2 separate regions of the Homo sapiens genome follow, and region 2 is linked to region 1. Evidence: fine-mapped expression QTL. A gene starts in region 1. The other region holds a variant in brackets. All regions are shown on one strand. Distances are between the middles of the regions.

Evidence for each region. PIP is the estimated chance that this variant, and not a neighbour inherited with it, causes the effect.
Region 2: its variant is the best candidate, but not a certain one, in a credible set for the expression of CTDSPL2 in whole blood (TOPMed, PIP 0.69).

What each region holds. Positions count from the first base shown.
Region 1 is chr15:44,425,826-44,430,350 of GRCh38, reverse strand. CTDSPL2 (CTD small phosphatase like 2) reads right to left here and starts at 2,722. Exons shown (of 13, transcript NM_016396.3): 1 at 2,579-2,722. LOC124903479 (a long non-coding RNA gene) reads right to left here. Exons shown (of 3, transcript XR_007064605.1): 2 at 4,378-4,525; 3 at 4,034-4,057. RefSeq lists enhancers at 1,998-2,604, 2,669-3,048, 2,605-3,212, 3,329-3,558, 3,213-3,820.
Region 2 is chr15:44,581,040-44,585,039 of GRCh38, reverse strand. SPG11 (SPG11 vesicle trafficking associated, spatacsin) reads left to right here. Exons shown (of 40, transcript NM_025137.4): 30 at 482-1,226. Among named protein-coding and RNA genes, the nearest start is that of EIF3J, 46 kb to the right of the region's middle. RefSeq lists silencers at 596-645, 2,463-2,634. The variant TC/C (reference allele first, on the strand shown) is at 2,278.

The sequences.
Region 1 (4,525 bases):
CTGCATAGGCCCAGGGGTTCACTACTGCACTCCAACCTGGGCCACAAAGAGAGACCCCCATCTCTAAAAAATAAAAATAAAAATAAATGCCATTTTACTCAACTGACAATAAAATCTATAGCTACAAATCCAGAATCTAGTACATCCTTGGTGAACAACAGGTCCAAGTTTCTTTAACCAGAATTAGATGGACTCTGTTATATAATAATCTCATGAAAAACCACTTAAGCAGAAATCACAAACTTGAGATCAGCTAGATGAATCTGAAAAGAAAAGACTTCCCCAATTCTTAATTTCTTAACAGTGGGAAAACAGTAACATTACCAGCTCAAGTTAAATGCACAAGAGACACTATGTAGAATGGAATCTTGTGAAACATACAAACCCTGACATTCCTATGCAATCCTATTTAGATTTTCTATATAGCTACAAGTCCACAAAGGTTAAGGACTACATCATTTATAGCTTTTACATTCTTTTTTTTTGAGACGGAGTCTCGCTCTGTCACCAGGCTGGAGTACAGTGGGGTGGTCTTCAGCTCACTGCAGCCTCCGCCTCCTGGGTTCAAGCGATTCTCCTGTCTCAGCCTCCCGAGTAGCTGGGACTACAGGTGTGCACCACCATGCCCGGCTAATTTTTGTATTTTTAGTAGAGATGGAGTTTCACTATGTTGGCCAGGCTGTTCTCGAACTCCTGATCTTGTGATCCGCCTGCCTTGGCCTCCCAAAGTGCTGGGATTACAGGCGTGAGCCACCCCACCCAGCCAGCTTATACGTTCTTTCAACTCTGAGAAAGCATTAAAAGAGTGCAAGTACTGAATGCACGTAGTACTAAACAATTTAGGAGAACTCTTGAAAACAAGGTCTACAATGCTCACTCAGCTAGCTGCAAACTAATTTTTATTAAAAACATTAACGCTATTAACTACCCAAAAAGGTCATTAAAATACAGACAAAACCTACACACTAGACCAATGATTTAAGATCCCTTTAAGTTGCATATTTGGCTCCATTTTTTAAATAAACTGACTCGGCAAGTAGTTAACGTGCCTGTACCTCCACTATTCTATTCGCCTTAGGAAAGTATGAAGCTCAACTTAATCCTAAAAAACTCCTTCACATAAGAGCTACCTTTTGCCTTGACTTTCTTTATGACCTTGGGCAAAGTCTACCAAATGAGGATTATAATAATGTTTGTGTGTTCCTGTTTATTATTGAAAATTAACCATAACATCGTGCAAACAATAGTGAAATTCTCTAAACTGGACCTATCCAGAACTGAAAACCTGAGTTATAAATATCAACTGATATTCAATGTGAACAGTTTTTAAAATTTTAATTTGATTAGTGAAAACAAAAAAACCTACAAAGATCCCAAATTCAACATGATTAATAAATTCCGAAAACACCAACAGCCTCCTTATTACTTCTCTTTATGAACAATTGGTCTGCAATGTAATTTAAAAAAAAGGAAAGAAAAAGTAAAGAAATATAGTAAAACTAGCTTTAACACGCCATTTCCCTTTTCTAAGAATAAAAAATGGACCAGGAACGAAAATTTAAAACTGGGCGAAGAATGGGGAGACAAAGCAATCTACAATTTGAAAATTACACAGATAAATCCATCATTTCAAGTCACTAATTTGTATACCCACTGAAGAAATTCATCTTGGTACTGCGTTACCAGCATTAGGAAGATAAATCCCTGCCTCGGAGGAACATCTACTGAGTACGTTTCATTTCAGGATCTCAGGTAAGTTTACGAGCTCTTAGATCTCTTTAGGTTTCCCTAAGGTACGCTGAAGTGTTTAACATCATTCACACATCCAGCCACCACTAGGGTGAGAAGTAAATAAACAAGATTTACTTATGCAATTATTTACCACAGAACTCTGGTCAAGAATGCAAAAGTAAACACCCATACAGACATTTAAAATCCAAAGAAAGCAGAGAATATTAAGGATAATAAGGTTCACTCTTTAACTGACCACTGTGGAAACCAGACGCCTTCCACATGGACTGTTCTTTACTACCACTCCCGATTTGAAAAAGTAACAATGTCAACTCGAGATTTTAACAGTACAAAAGATAAACAGAACTTAGTCAAATCCCTTCTTCCAGATTCTGAAAAGGTGTTTATAAGAACTGAGATAAGAGCAACGCCCCCCTAAAAGCACCCTACTCCAAAGAATGAAATGCTGAAAACATGAGGTGGGCCAAAAAGGTTAAAAAAAGCTAAACTTCTAACTTAATTACCCAGAGGTTGGGGACTAGGAACTTGAGATCGGAGTGGGGGTGGGTAGCAAAGTGAAATCTAACCCCAGAAATCACAACGCAGGCCGCAACCTAAGAGGTGAAGCTGGCGGGAAGTGAGCTCCCTTTCTGTTCCCAGGGGAAAGTCCAGACAGGAGCGGCTCCGCACAGTGGACGTACGAGGCGCCAAAGAGTGCATGCCTACCAAGGCGCCAGAGCCGCTGGAGGACCAGGTTTAGAAGGGGAGGAGATCCCGGCAGACGGCCCTGGAAGAGGAGGAGGACTGAGATTGGAAGCAGCGGCGGCGTCTGGACGAAGGGGATTACCTAACTGTGACGACAGAGAAGTGTCCTCAGGCTCCGGCGATGGTCCCGACTGCGCAATGTGTGGTGTCTTTCCCGCTTACCCCGCAGCAGCAACAGAACCAGCTCCTTCAGCCAGTCGCCATTTCCCGCCTACCGACCTGCTGCACCGCACGGACAGGGACCCGGATGGAAAGCGGCCTCTCCGCGCAGGCGCCCTGACTTCCTCCTCCCCCTCCCGCCACAATTCCGCGAGGTGGGAGGGAAGGAATGCGGGCAGCCACAACGGCAACAACAACCAAAAAAACACTTTTACTTCCGTGAAGAGCGTTGAAGTTCCTTACGCCGGAAGAAACTCTCTAGTCTGAATCCTGGAGAAAAACTGAACACAAGGCCTTAGTACTGGGTCGATTAAGAAAGGACAAAACCTATCAGGATGAGCAAGGGCCTGGGGGATATTTGTACATTAGGGGCCTCCGTAGCCGGCTGTGTAGTGGTCGCAGGGGGAGTAGGGAGTAAAGCGTTAGGAGTGGAGAGGCGGGGACCCGAAGGACGGTTTTTCCTCCCGCTCCTAACGGAACTGCTTGGGCAGAGCTGGGAGGGGGAGCGCGCCCTTGCCCCGGAGGCGGGGCTTAGGAACGCGTAGTGCACCCTGGCGGCTAGGGTTTAGTAACTGTGGGCGCGCTGGGTAGGTGGAGCTGAGGGGATAAGGCGGGACTAACGGCTTGGCGCGCTGGAGGAGGTAGTTCGTAGGGAGAGCTGCCTGAGGCCGGGAGAAAGCGAATCTGGCGCCTTTCCTGGGATTTCGGTGGCCCTTGAAGGTTCCCTTTCCAGCTCATTGCCTAGAGGGCGTAGCAGTCGCTTTTGGATCATAAATATTCATGCCCTTCGACTCAACCCTATGTTGGCGGTGATTCTGCAGGTTGAAAACTCGGATCTTTCAGGCCAGTGGGCTCCCACCTGCGACCCTAGGTCAAAGGACGGTCAGCTCCACAGAGTGAAAATGTATCAGTCCAGAGAATCCAGTTCTAGTGGGGTATCGGAAAACCAAGCCTAGTGTTTGGAAGAACATTTTTCACTGAAACTCCAAGCCACTCTCCTTATTCAATCAAGAAATATTTATTGAAAAAATAACTAGGTGCGACGGGTAAAACAGTGAGCCAGGCAGACACGGATACTGCCTTCCCCAAAGGTAATGATTTTTTTTTTTTTTCGAGACGGAGTCTTCACTCTGTCGCCCAGGATGGAGTGCAGTGGCGCGATCTCGGCTCAAACCTCCACCTCCCGGGTTCAAGCGATTCTTCTGCCTCAGCCCCCCGAGAAGCTGGGATTACAGGCGCGCGCCACCACGACCGGCTAATTTTTGTATTTTTAGTAGAGACGGGGTTTCACCACGTTGGTCAGGCTGGTCTCGTACTCCTGACCTCGTGATCCGCCCGCTTCGGCCTCCCAAAGTGCTGGTATTACAGGCGTGAGCCACCGCGCCCGGCCAAAGATCATAATCTATTGAAGAAGACACCCAAGTAAACAGAATTTAAAAACTGATAAAGCGAATACAAGGATGGCATGATAGGCGTTGTAAAACACATGAGAGTGCCGGCGAGGGGGTCTGGGAAGGTTTCGTAAGATAACATCTGAGACAAAAAGGAGGAGTGTGTGTTGCAGGGGAAGAGTGTCTGGGTAAAGGAAACAACAGACGGAAAAGTCCAAAGATGAGACTGTGTTGAGCCATTGGAGAAGTAGTTCTGTGCGCTAAGAAAAGAGGATGGGAGGGCAGGGGGAAGATGGCAAGAGAGGCTGAGAAGTAAGCAGAAATAACATACCGTTGTGAATCTCATTATTTCGAAGTATGGAGCAGGTGGGTTGTCTTCTGAAAACCTTGTATACTACAGATTCTTCTGTCAGAGTTCATTTGCACCCTAAATCTTCCTAGTGCAAAAATGCTCTGAATGCGACATTTATTGGGAGCTG
Region 2 (4,000 bases), 150 kb before region 1:
GATCAATCAAGAATTGTTTTTCATACCATAACTTTCCAGATAAAATATCTAGGGTCATCTGTAGCCAAATCTCTGTTCTCTGATTTGATTTGGTTTTAACAAGTATGATAAGGCCAGGTGCAGTGGCTCATGCCTATAATCCCAGCACTTTGGGAGGGCAAGGCAGGAGGATTGCTTGAGCCCAGGAGTTTAAGACCAGCCTGGGCAACATAGGGAGACCCTGTCTCTACAAAAAATTAAAAATTAGCCAGGCATGATGGCACACACCTGTGGTCCCAGCTACCTGGGAGGCTGAGGTGGGAGGATCTCTTGGGTCCAGCAGGTTGAGGCTGCAGTGTGCTGTGATCGCCACCACTGCTCTCCAGCCTGGGTGACAGACTGAGACCCTGTCCAAACAAGTATGATATACTTAGGGAACATTAGCATTTATGATACTTTTTTATCCAAGAAAGGCTAAAATCTGCTTTGTTAAATTTCACAGATAACACAGGAAATGCAGACCCTAAAACACATTGAACAGTGGTCACTAAAACAAGCAAGAATTGACTTCTGGAAAAAATGCCATGAGAATTTTAAGAAAAATTCAATTTCAAGCAAAGCAGCTTCTTCCTTTTTCTCAACCCAGGCCCATGTGGCATGTGAGCACCCAACTGGATGGAGCAGCATGGAGGAGCGCCATCTGCTGCTCACCTTGGCAGGGCACTGGCTTGCCCAGGAGGACGTGGTGCCCTTGGATAAGCTGGAGGAGCTGGAGAAGCAGATCTGGCTGTGCCGCATCACCCAGCACACTCTTGGAAGAAATCAGGAGGAAACAGAGCCCAGATTTTCTCGACAGATCTCAACTAGTGGTGAACTTTCCTTTGATAGTTTAGCCAGTGAGTTTTCCTTCTCCAAGTTGGCTGCTCTGAACACATCAAAATACTTAGAACTTAACAGCCTTCCATCCAAAGAGACATGCGAGAATAGATTGGATTGGAAAGAGCAGGAGTCACTAAACTTTTTGATTGGGCGCCTACTGGATGATGGCTGTGTGCATGAAGCAAGTAGAGTATGCCGGTATTTTCATTTTTATAATCCAGATGTCGCCTTGGTATTGCACTGCAGAGCACTGGCCTCAGGGGAAGCTAGTATGGAGGATCTGCACCCAGAGATCCATGCTCTCCTACAAAGTGCTGAGCTGCTTGAGGAAGAAGCACCCGACATTCCCCTAAGGAGAGTCCACAGCAGTAAGTGAAGGAGATCAGATGGCCCAGAGTCTTAAATGGCACTGTTAGCACTGTCTCCAAGAAGGAAGGGACCCTTGTGGCAGAATAGTTCTACCAAGTTAAGGGGACAACAACTTTTTTCCAGGTAATCTGTAGACTAGCCAATTAACTAGGCAATGAAATAGAAAGATCTATGTCTTTTAAACTAGCTATGTTTCAAAGTTAAAGGGAATCTATCTGATTTGTAGCTAGTTCACTGAAATTTATTCTACATATTCTATACATCTGTAAATTTAATCATTTCCAGTCTTACATTGATAGTATATAGAAATATGGCTTTTTGTTTTTCTTTTTGGTTTTTTGTTTTTTGTTTTTTGAGATGGTGTTTCATTCTTGTCGCCCAGGCTGGAGTGCAATGGTGTGGTCTCAGCTCACTGCAACCTCCGCCTCCCAGGTTCAAGTGATTCTCCTGCCTTAGCTTCCCAAGTAGCTGGGATTACTGGCTAATTTTTGTATTAGTAGAGACCGGGTTTCACCATGTTGGCCAGGCTGGTCTCGAACTCCTGACCTCAGGCGATTCGTCCACCTCGGCCTCCCAAAGTGCCGAGATTATAGGGCGTGAGCCACCGCACCCGGCCAGAAATCTGTTTTTTATGTTACCTTTATATGACTTTGTTAAACTTGCTTATTCTAGGAGATTTCTTGTAGATTCCTCAAGATTTTCTACATAGACATTCATGTCATCTGCAAATAGAGTTGTATTTCTGCCTTTCCAATCTGTATGCCTTTTATTTCTTGTTCTTGCTTTATTGCACTGACTAGGCCTTTCAGTACTGTGTTGGATAGGGGTGGCGAGAGTGGACATCTGTACCTTTTTACTGACCTTAAAGGGAAATTATTTGATCTTTCATCATTTAAGTATGGTATTAGCTGTAGGTTTTTGAAGACAGGCTTTATCATGTTGAAAAAGTTCCCTTCTGTTCCTGGTTTGCTGAGAATTTTTATCATAAATCAGTTTGAATTTTGTCATGTTATTGCTGTATCTGTTAATCTGATCATGTGGTTTTTTTTT[TC/C]GTTAGACTATTAATATAGTAGATTACATTAGTTGATTTTTTAATATTGGACCAGCCTTGAATTCCCCATTTACATAAATCCAATTTGGGCCTGGTGCGTTATTCTTTTTGATTTTTTGCTGGAATCAATTTGCTGTTTTGTTAAAGATTTTTACATGTATGTTCATGAGGAATGTTATTCTGTAATTTTCTTTATTGTACTGTTTTTGTTTTTGAGATGGAGTCTCCCTCTGTCGCCCAGGCCAGAGTGTGGTGGCACAACCTCAGATCACTGCAACCTCTGCCTTTCAGGTTCAAGTGATTCGCCTGCCTCAGCCTCCCGAATAGCTGGGATTACAGGCGTGTACCACCACGCTTGGCTACTTTTTGTATTTTTAGTAGAGATGGGGTTCCACTATATTGGCCAGGCTGGTCTTGAACTCCTTACCTCAAGTGATCCGCCCATCTTGGTCTCCCAAAGTGCTGTGATTACCGGCTTGAGCCACCGTGCCCGGCCTTTTTTTATACTGTTTGGTTTTTGTATCAAGGTAATGTTGGTTTCATGAGTTAGAAAGTACTCCCTCCTCTTTTATTTTCTGGAAAACATTGTGTAGAACTGGTGTTATTTCTTCCTTAAATGCTTAGTAGAATTTACCAGTAAAACTATCTGAGACTGGAGATTTCCATTTTGGAAGATTTTAAACCACAAATTCAATTTCTTAAACAATTACAGGACTATTCAGGTTATCTTTCTTATCTTGGGTGAGTTTTAGCATTTTGTGATTTTCAAGGGAAACTTTTTCTTCTGCTTTTTGGGTTATTTGAACATTTTTTAGTCTTCCATTTTAATTTATTGTGATTTTGACTCTGCATCTTTGTATAGTTTAATTTTATTTTTTTAGAGATGACAGTGTACATCCTTAACTTTCCACAGTATACTTAGAATCAATATTTTACCACCTCAGCTGGAATGTAGGAGGAATCTTACCACCATTTTAGGTCACTTTATTCTTCTCCCTTTACATCCTACTTGTCTTTTATTACTTCTGCATACATTGAAAACCTCATTAAACAATGAGGTTTTTGCTCTTAGCCAAAAAATATATTTTAATAAACCCGCCTTGGCCTCCCAAAGTGCTGGGATTACAGGCGTGAGCCACCACGCCCAGCCTTTTTTTTTTTTTTAATAATCAGTTTTTCATCATCTGAGAATGTCTCTATTTTACTTTCATTCCTAAAGGATGTTTTGCTGGATATAGAAAATTAGTTATTTTCAGGCCAGGTGCAGTGGCTCACACCTGTAATTCCAGCACTTTGGGAGGCTGAGGCAGGCAGATCAGTTGAGCTCAGGAGTTCAAGACCAGCCTGGGCAACATGGCAAAACCCCGTCACTACAAAAAATACAAAAATTAGCCAGGTGTGTTGGCACATGCCTGTAGTCCCAGCTACTTGAGGGGCTAAGGCACGAGGATCGCTTGAGCCCAGGAGGATAAGGCTGCAGTGAGCCATGTTCATGCCACTGCACTCCAGCCTGGGCAACAAAGTAAGAACCTGTCTCAAAAAATAAATAAGAAAATTAGTTATTTTCTTTCAGTGCTTGAAAATGTTGTTCACTTCCTTTTCGCCTCCATGGTGTCTGATGAAAAATCTGCAGTCAGTTGAATCATTGTTCATCTATATAAACAGTGCCTATTTCTCTGGTTGCTCTCGATGTTTTTTTTTCTGTTGTTGGTCTTCAGCAGT